Linked DNA regions of Homo sapiens: region 1 is linked to region 2. Evidence: fine-mapped expression QTL. A gene starts in region 2. The other region holds a variant in brackets. All regions are shown on one strand. Distances are between the middles of the regions. Region 1 overlaps SHROOM3 (shroom family member 3). Region 2 holds the start of FAM47E (family with sequence similarity 47 member E).

The links. PIP is the estimated chance that this variant, and not a neighbour inherited with it, causes the effect. A credible set is the group of variants that fine-mapping cannot tell apart.
Region 1: its variant is the best candidate, but not a certain one, in a credible set for the expression of FAM47E in ileum (GTEx, PIP 0.53).

The regions. Positions count from the first base shown.
Region 1 is chr4:76,568,917-76,573,306 of GRCh38, forward strand. All of the region lies in intron 2 of SHROOM3 (shroom family member 3), which reads left to right. Among named protein-coding and RNA genes, the nearest start is that of MIR4450, 2.5 kb to the right of the region's middle. The variant C/T (reference allele first, on the strand shown) is at 2,745.
Region 2 is chr4:76,249,295-76,253,689 of GRCh38, forward strand. FAM47E (family with sequence similarity 47 member E) reads left to right here and starts at 2,427. Exons shown (of 8, transcript NM_001136570.3): 1 at 2,427-2,526. The coding sequence starts at 2,453. FAM47E-STBD1 (FAM47E-STBD1 readthrough) reads left to right here and starts at 2,427. Exons shown (of 7, transcript NM_001242939.2): 1 at 2,427-2,526. The coding sequence starts at 2,453. It overlaps LOC105377286 (a long non-coding RNA gene), which reads right to left and starts at 2,383. Exons shown (of 3, transcript XR_938897.4): 1 at 1,814-2,383.

The sequences.
Region 1 (4,390 bases), 320 kb after region 2:
TTATCTGGGAAGTAAAGACAACCATCCACACTTCATATGGAGGTTGTAGCCATAAAGACAACCTGTGTATAGAAAAAAAACTCAGCCTTGGGTTTGGCACACTGTTATCAATCATCTCATTCATAAGTTCAACCATAGTTATTGAGCAGGTGCTGGCACCAGTTCTCAGCATATATGTGCTGAATGGAGGCATTTCTATTTTTCACTAAGTAGTTTTCCATACTGTTAGCTGTTTTATGAGTAAAAGAACAGATCCAACCGAGGAGGGTTTGGGGCTTACGTTTCTCACCAGTGAAAGTTAAACTAAAATTAGACCGAAATCCAATTTGTCAGGGGGGGAAATAAAGCAATGGGAAAAGGTGACTTGCTAATAACGATGGATATAAAACTTTAGTACGGGGTGGATGGGTGAGAGGTCACTGGCAAGGCTCCTCTCCTGACCTCCAGAGGGGTCATTTTGGAGAAACTGCTGCCTGCTTTATGAAGGTCAAAGCACCCAGAAATGAAAGGACTTAGCCTCAGGTCACAGGTCTAGTAAACCACAGAATGAGGAAGAGAAGTCAGGTTTTCTAGCACCAGCCAAGCCTGCTCTCTCAGGGCATACATAAAAATAGAAAACTCCAAAAGCCAGAGCTCCTTTTTGCCTTAATCTTATATTTTCTTTCTTACTGGTGGTAGGAAATGGATAATTTGGGATGTTCATGTTTTGTTAGATGATTCTCCCTTCTCTCTCTCACACATCTTTCCAGTTTTCCTAGTTTTCCAGTTTTCTTCCTATGACAGTTTTTTTTTTTTCCCCTCAAAGTGTGGTCTTTAGACAACTTGCATCAAAACGGCTGTGGTGTCTATTTAACTCGCAAATCCTTTGTACCTCTTCCTACATAAGACTGTCTTGAGGGAAGCCTGCCTTTTAACAGATGCCAACACCCACTGAAACTTGCAGCCTCTAGCCCTAAGGGAGTGGACATGCTCTTCTCTGGCTGGGTGAGGTCAACCCCATGAATCTTTCCTGCCTCATTGGCCCATGTAAGAGACAAAAGGATGAGATCAGTGTCCATTTGAGCAACTCCGTGGTTATTCTTCAAAGTCTCTAGCATCGTGCCTTTCCTTGGCCTTGATATATAGGTAAAGTTCAAAATTCAAATTTTCTACTTCAAATAAAGTTTGGGGATGGTTTTTATTTCTGTGAACTCCTTCAGAAACATTTTAGAACACAACCCAAATGCTCAGAAATGTTAAAACACACACACACACACACACACACACACGCACACCAGTACTTCTCAGCCTGCCACCTTTCCAAGGGCAGAGCAACCTGCAGCAGTTTCTAAAAATAGACCTTTCTGCTACAGGTCACTAAGCAGGAATGGCCTCCATGTCACTCTGTTTACAGTTTCACATCTGACACCTTCATAACAACTGTGCTGACTTGATGAGGCATGAGGACCAACATCAGTCTGTGGGAACTCCTGAGAAAATGCAACCTGGGGCTGTGGCTGGTGTGCAATCGGTGGCATCCCCACAAAATCCAGCCGTGTTTGGATTCAAGGCCCTTTCAACCTTTGTTTGCCATTCCTCGTCACCTTTCCATCACTGTCTCAAAGTCAGGGGCAGAGGTCAAAAACTCCGAGTCACTCCATGAGGTAGCAATGAATATAAACATGAGCTCATGTTCAGGAATTTAAGACTCACCGTGTTTTCTTTCGTTTTGTTTAATCTGTCTTGCATTTCTCCTCTTTGCAAACTTGTGGGTTTACAATGCATCATCTAGCTGCAAATTTAATTTTAGGCTCTTTCAAGAAAATGCTCAGAAAAGGCGAACTTATCTTTGCTATATTCAGGACAGCCCTGCAACAGTGAGGGCTGTGTAATAATTCATGCACATTCCCGTCCCAGTCCCTAAGTGTGCAGACTACGTGGGTGGTATTAGAATTAAAATTTCTTGGGATTAACATTCTAAAATTAAGAAATGGGGTCAAAGAATGGGGGCACTTGACACTAAATGTACATGAGGTGATTGGACTGGATTACTGAGCATTCACAGTCATAGGATTCCTAGTAAGTTCTGAAGAAGTGGACCAATTGTTATCAGTTTAGGATCCTACTTACAGGAATCATTTTTGATTTGCAAACTTAGCCTGCTATCTTTAAATAAATAATTTTAGTAAGCTCTCAAAATGTTAGCTTTGGGTGGGTGTCTAAGCATTTTCATTCTTTGATTTATTTCTCACAACACCAGTAATAGGGATTATTACTACTCTATTTTACAGACGAGGAGATAGACTTGCAAGAGGGCAGTCTTATCAAGGGGATACATGTGTTAAGTGTGAATTTAAACTCCAGTCTATCTGATACAAAAGCCCAAGCTTTTACATCAGTAAAAACTAGTTCAGTTGAGCTGGTTTTCAGTGATTGCTGAAATCCCTGAACCAATATGGGTTCTTCAGCCTCTGGGAGAAGAGGAGTTGGGCTTGGCCAATGCTTTTATTTGCTTTGCTTTAAAGAAAGCACACACTGGGCCCTTTTGTTTTCCCAGCAGTGTTGATTCACGTTCACTAAATAAATTAGCCTTCCCGTGTTGTCTCACTCATTTGACATTAGCAAGTTTACATGCCAATAAAAATAGAAATGGGAGAAACAATACTGCAAGAAGAGAGAAGTGGCAGAGGCGTTAGAGTGCACCAAGACATGAACACAAGCTCATCATTTTCTACACTCCTTTCAAAACAAAACAAAGCAAAACC[C/T]CACAGCTTGATTCCAATCACAGTTTGTTCTGTGATTTTATGTGGTTGAAATGCCTGATTAATACTGAAATGTTGTAACATTCATTATTTTGTAAGAGAATAGTTGAGACTTCCAATAAGATTTTATCATTTCTCTTCCAAATAGTGGAAGCCTGATAAATGATGTTAGGATTCTGTACTAGTCTTACTAGTACTTATTCATAGATCTAGAAGTCTCTGTGTCCATTGTGAGATGGGCTGTACGTGGGTCAAATACAGCTTCTGAAGAAGTTGAGATTTGTCTTTGTGCTCTGCTATTAACAGCATCCTAATGAAGCACTCAAGCTACTCCCATCTTCTCTCTGCTTCCTCCATACTGCGCCCCCCAGCCCAATCTCCCTAAAATCTTTCCTTCCTGAGAATTGTTCCTCCATATCTGCCTCTTTCCTGGATCCTCATCCAAACTTGCCTTTGCATTTCTTACTCCCTCAGAGCCTTGCTAGGAGATGATTTGCTAATCTTTGACATGGCTAAGAATAGTAAATGTCCTTTGAGAACAATACAATCTTGCACTAACATACAACGGGAATAATAAAGTTACTATTCATATTTTAAAGGGCAATTTTGCAGGTTGTCAACATCTTACCCTAAAGGAGTGAGTTCCCAATGGTGTAATCTCAGTGACAAACTGTATACCGTGATAGGTGACAGGACCTTCAGGTCATGGGCAGAAAGTGATCTTAATAAAGGCTGACCTTGGCCACTGCAGCCTGCATGTTCTGGGGCATCCTGAGGTCTCCCTGTGTGACTGACACTTCCCCTGAGGACTATTCCCAGTGCAGTCAGTAGGAAACCTTAGTGGTCAATGATGGTGGGCCAGGGAGGTGAGGGACAGAGGATGTGTCAGATATCCTAATAGTATATACAGTTTAAAGACTCATTTCATAATTTTGGGAGTTGTTTTCTAGGGATATTGTGATCGTTCAAATGTAAATATCTGCATCTTGAATATACTGGAAAAAAGTGATTGGCATGTTTTAGGGGCAGCTCTAGCAGTATAACAGTGTACGGGTTTGCCCCTTTATGGTTTGTGGGTAGGAAGAGATTTATTCTGAACTAGTTTTCTCTGCTACCCAACTGCTTATGAAATATGAACACAGGCTGGGTTCAGTGGCTCAAGCCTGTAATCCCAGCGCTTTGGGAGGCCAAAGCAGGTGGATCACTTGAGGTCAGGAGTTCGAGACCAGCCTGGTCAACACGGTTAAACCCTGTCTCTACTAAAAATACAAAAGATTAGCCAGGTGTGGTAGCACACGCCTGTAGTCCCAGCTGCTTGGGAGGCTGAGGCAGGAGAATTGCTTGAACCCAAGAGGAGAGGTTGCAGTGAGCTGAGATTGCACCACTGCACTCCAGCCTGGGTGACAGAGCTAGACACTGTCTCAAAAAAAAAATAAAAAAGAAAAAAGAAAGAAAGAAATATGAACACAAGCTTGAAACTCAATAAAATTGAGATTTAGATCTGTCACTTGCCCTCAACAGGCACAACAAGGTAAGGTGGCCAGATTTAACAATTAAAAATACAGATGTCCTATTAAATTTGAATTTCTGATAATCATTGAATTTATTTTAGTCAAAGTAGGTACCCAATTTTATCTACCAAACCTAGT
Region 2 (4,395 bases):
TTGGTAGAAACCCTAGGCATATGGACAAATTGTTTATTTATTATTTGTTTGTTTATTTAAGAGTGATAATTTGCCAACATATTATTTTGCTAAATATTTTTAAAAGGATTATTGCAGCTGTAGAAAATATATAGAAAGCCATCTTAGGAAACTCTACCTCTTGCTTGCTGATATATAAATTGTAGTCAGCTTTTTCTTCTTTTTGTCACAACCTTTGGAGATTCCGGTAAAATGCCTCCTTCAGAATATTTCTGGGCATCCGTTATTTGTTTATTTATTTATTTTTTTTTTGGTTACATGAGTAAGTTCTCCAGTGGCAATTTCTGAGATTTTGGTGCACCCATCACCCAAGCAGTGTACCCTGTACCCAATGTGTAGTCTTTTATCTCTTGTCCCCGTCCTATCCTTCCCCCCAAGTTCCCAAAGTCCATTTTATCATTCTTACACCTTTGCATCCCCATAGCTTAGCTCCTACTTATGAGTGAGAATGTACAATGTTTGGTTTTCCATTCCTTAGTTACTTCAGTTAGAATAATGGTCTCCAGTTCCATCCAAGTTGCTACTAATGCCATTATTTCATTCCTTTTTATGGCTGAATGTTATTCCATTATATATATGTGTATATATACACATATATACCACAATTTCTCTATCCACTCATCGATTGATGGGCATTTGGGCTGGTTCCATAGTTTTGCAACTGCAAATTGTGCTGCTATTAACATGTGTGTGCAAGTATCTTTTTTGTATAATGACTTTTCTTCCTCTGGGTAGATACCCAGGTAGTGGGACTGCTGGATGAAATGGTAGATCCACTTTTAGTTCTTTAAGGAATCTCCACACTGTTTTCCATAGTGGTTTTACTAGTTTACATTCCCACCAGCAGCGTAAAAGTGTTCTCTTTTCCCCACATCCACACCAACATCTAATTTTTTAAATTTTTTGATTATGGCCAGTTTTGCTGGAGTAAGGTGGTATTACATTGTGGTTTTGATTTGCATTTCCCTTATAATTAGTGATATCTAGCCTTTTTTCATATGTTTGTTCACCATTTTTATATCTTCTTTTGAGAATTGTCTATTCATGTCCTTAGCCCATTTGTTGATGGGATTGCTTGTTTTTTTCTTGCTGGCTTGTTTGAGTTCCTTGTAGATTCTGAATATTAGTCCTTTGTTGGATATATAGATTGCAAAGATTTTTCCCACTCTGTGGGCTGTTTACTCTGCTGATTATTTCTTTTGCTGTGTAGAAGCTTTTTAGTTTAATCAAGCATTGTTTGGGCAAATTGTTACAAATCATTCCTGCAGGACTCCATTCAGCCTAGATAACCATACTTTTGGCCCAGTTCTCACAGAATTTCTACAGAAACCCTACCTCCTCAAAGTAATAAAAAGTTTGCATTACAATCGGACTAATATCAAAGAAAATAAAAATAACAATTGGGCTAATTATAATGATTACCTACATAGCTTTCTCCATTAACTAACTCACAACAGCTCTGTTAAGTAGTCAGGACAAATATTACCACCCCCGGTTCACAGCTGGAATAATAGTACTTGCATAATAATAATTCTTGAGGGATTCTTAAATGCTGGCACTGTGTTAATTTCTTTATATTCATCGAATATCCCCAATAACCCTACAGGTAGATACTATTATTTTCCCCATTTTCAGGCCAGGTAATTAATGAAGCTTAAAAATGTAAGTACCCTGCCCCCAGGAGTGCATAATTATTAAGTAGCAGAACCAATGCTTATATTTAAATCAGAAACACTCAGAAGTAGCATAAGAATTTAGTAAAAACGAAACACACCCTCGTGCAATCCGTATTATGTGGCCACGTGCCTACCAGGGTCAGCTGGATGGTACTTGTCTGCTAGAAGTGAGTCGAGGCAGAAGAATCAACACAGGAGCTGGAAGGGCCTCTGGAAATCAGCTGGGGACTAGAGACAGGTGTGCAGCCCTCGGTTTACAGAGGCTGTGAGACCAAGAGAGTTCCAAGACCTCCAGGAAAACATCTCCCTGCTAAAAGGCTTTCCCAACCTTTAGAAATCTATTCATTTTCCCCACTTTCCATCCTCTTTCTCTTGCTATCTCTTTATCGCTCCTCCTGCCTTCTTCCTTTCTTTCCTTCAGTAAACGTTTTTTGAAACGATGATGAGCAAAAAACGCCTGATCCAGTCTATGGCGCGTTTCGGTGGGAAGATGAACACGCCTTCCCAGCAGAGTAAAACGTGATTACACCAAGGACCGGTACCCTCTCCCTTCCCTCGGCCAGGTCCACGTCCCCAGGCGTCGGAGAAGGGGTTGGACCGCGCAGCGGGGCGTCAGAGTTGCCAGGCGCCCGGGGCAAATACCGGCAGCGGTGGTTGTGCGGTGTCCTAGCAACGGGGCGGCAGCAGGGCACACACACCGCCCAAGCCCGGACGGTGGCCGCGAAGCTAGGGCCACCATGGCGGACCGCAGGCGGCGGCTCCGGCCGGGGACGTTGGCCCCGGTGCGCGAGGGCGTGAACTGCAGGTCCAGGTAAACACTCAGCGCCCGGGCCGAGGGCGCATCCCACGCGGGCCGCGCGGGGGCGCCTGGAGACCCGCGCTTGCTGGGGCGGGGGCGAGGGGAGAGGTCCAGCCTGCCTTCCCTCCTCAATGCTTCCTGTACGTACAACATAATACGCTGAGATAACCAACGCTTGGCGCTGCTCTTTGCAAAGGATTTTTCCTGCTGTCATCCTCACAACCCCCGCCTCCCACGCCCCCAGGGATGTAGACTAATATCCCCATTTCTGATGGGAAAGTGATGGCCGCAGAGTCCGCTGCGGAGGCTGGTGCCCTCCTGCTAGCCACCCACCCTTTTCCGGCCTAGCCAACCAACTGTTCGCCAGATGCCCCGGGGCGCCTGGAGCCCTGTATCCGATGTTAGGCATCTGCTGCCCCTGGAGCCTTTGGTATCCAGATGGCGGCTGTGGCCAAGTGGAGCCCAGGGTTGGGGGAGCGCCTGGGGTGCTAGGGAGGTCTGCTAACATTTTGTACGGTTGTGGTAGCCTCAGAGCAGGAACAAGAAGGTTTTTGCCTTTACCGACTCCTTGACAATCTTTTGAGAATGGAATTCGTCTGTCTTGGAGACAGCACGATGTGGTGGTGAAGATTCCAAAGTCTAGAATCAGAAAGGCTTGAGTAGAAGGCTAGTTCTCCTCTTGTTTGCCTGGTGACCTTAGGCAAGTTGGTTGCTCCTTCTGGGCTCACTTTCCTAACTATAAAATGGGGCAATAACTTAGGAATCAGCTTTCTAAGATTGTCGTGAGGATTAATGGAGATAGCACATGTAAAGTTGTCACTGGCACATAGAACGTATCGTGTACATGTTAGCAATTATTCATAGTTGTTTCTAGCAGTTATTCATAAGAGCTTCTTTGGGAAGCTTCTCCCCCCCATTTAAAAATTTTGTTTTGAAATAACTGTAGGCTCACCAGAAGTTGCAGAAATAGTACAGAGGTCCCATGTACCCTTCCCCTAGCTGCTTACAGTGGTACCATTTTACATAACGATAGCACATTGCCAAACCAGGAAACGTCATTGGCAGAATATGCTAATTGAACTAGAGACCTTACTTGGATTTTATCAGCTCTTACTTGCACTCAGGTGTGTGAGTTCTGTAACATTTGGTCATATGTATACATAAAGATACAAAACTGTTCCTTCCCCACAGAGGAACTCTTAGTATTACCCCTTTGCTGTCACTTCTTTTCCCACCCCAGCCTTGTCAATCGCTAAGCTGCTCTCCATTTCTGTAAGTTAGTTCTTTTGAGAATGTTAGATAAACAGAATAATACAGTATGTAACTGTTTGAGACTGGCTCTTTTTCACTCATCATAAAGCCTCTGAGATCCATCCAAGTTGTGTGTATCAGTAGTTCATTTTTGTTGCTGAGTCGTGTTCCTTGGTGTGGATGTACCACAGTTTGTTTATCCATTCACTTGTTGAAGGACATTCAGGTTGTTTTGGACATTCCAGTTTTGGGGCTAATATGTAGAAAGCTGCTATCGACATTTGTGTACAGAATTTTCTGAGAACATACTTTTTCATTTCTTTAGGATACATGTCCGGTATCCTTTTGCAATTCTTAAAGAGGGAAATATCCATATATCATGTACTAGTGTCTGTGAAAACAGTAAATATTTAGAAAAATTGTTTCCAGTTTTATTTTATGGGCCAAGCAAGATTTTTCCTGAACCTAACATAATGCAGAATGGTAAGCTTATTAACTATGAGAGGCCATGTGGGGGAGAGGAAAGCCCTCCCTTTACACTGGTTGCCTTACTCTCCTCTTGGAACTTAGTTTCCTTATTAAAAAGAGGAAAGCGGTAGCCAGGCATGGTGGCACATGCCTGTAGTCCCA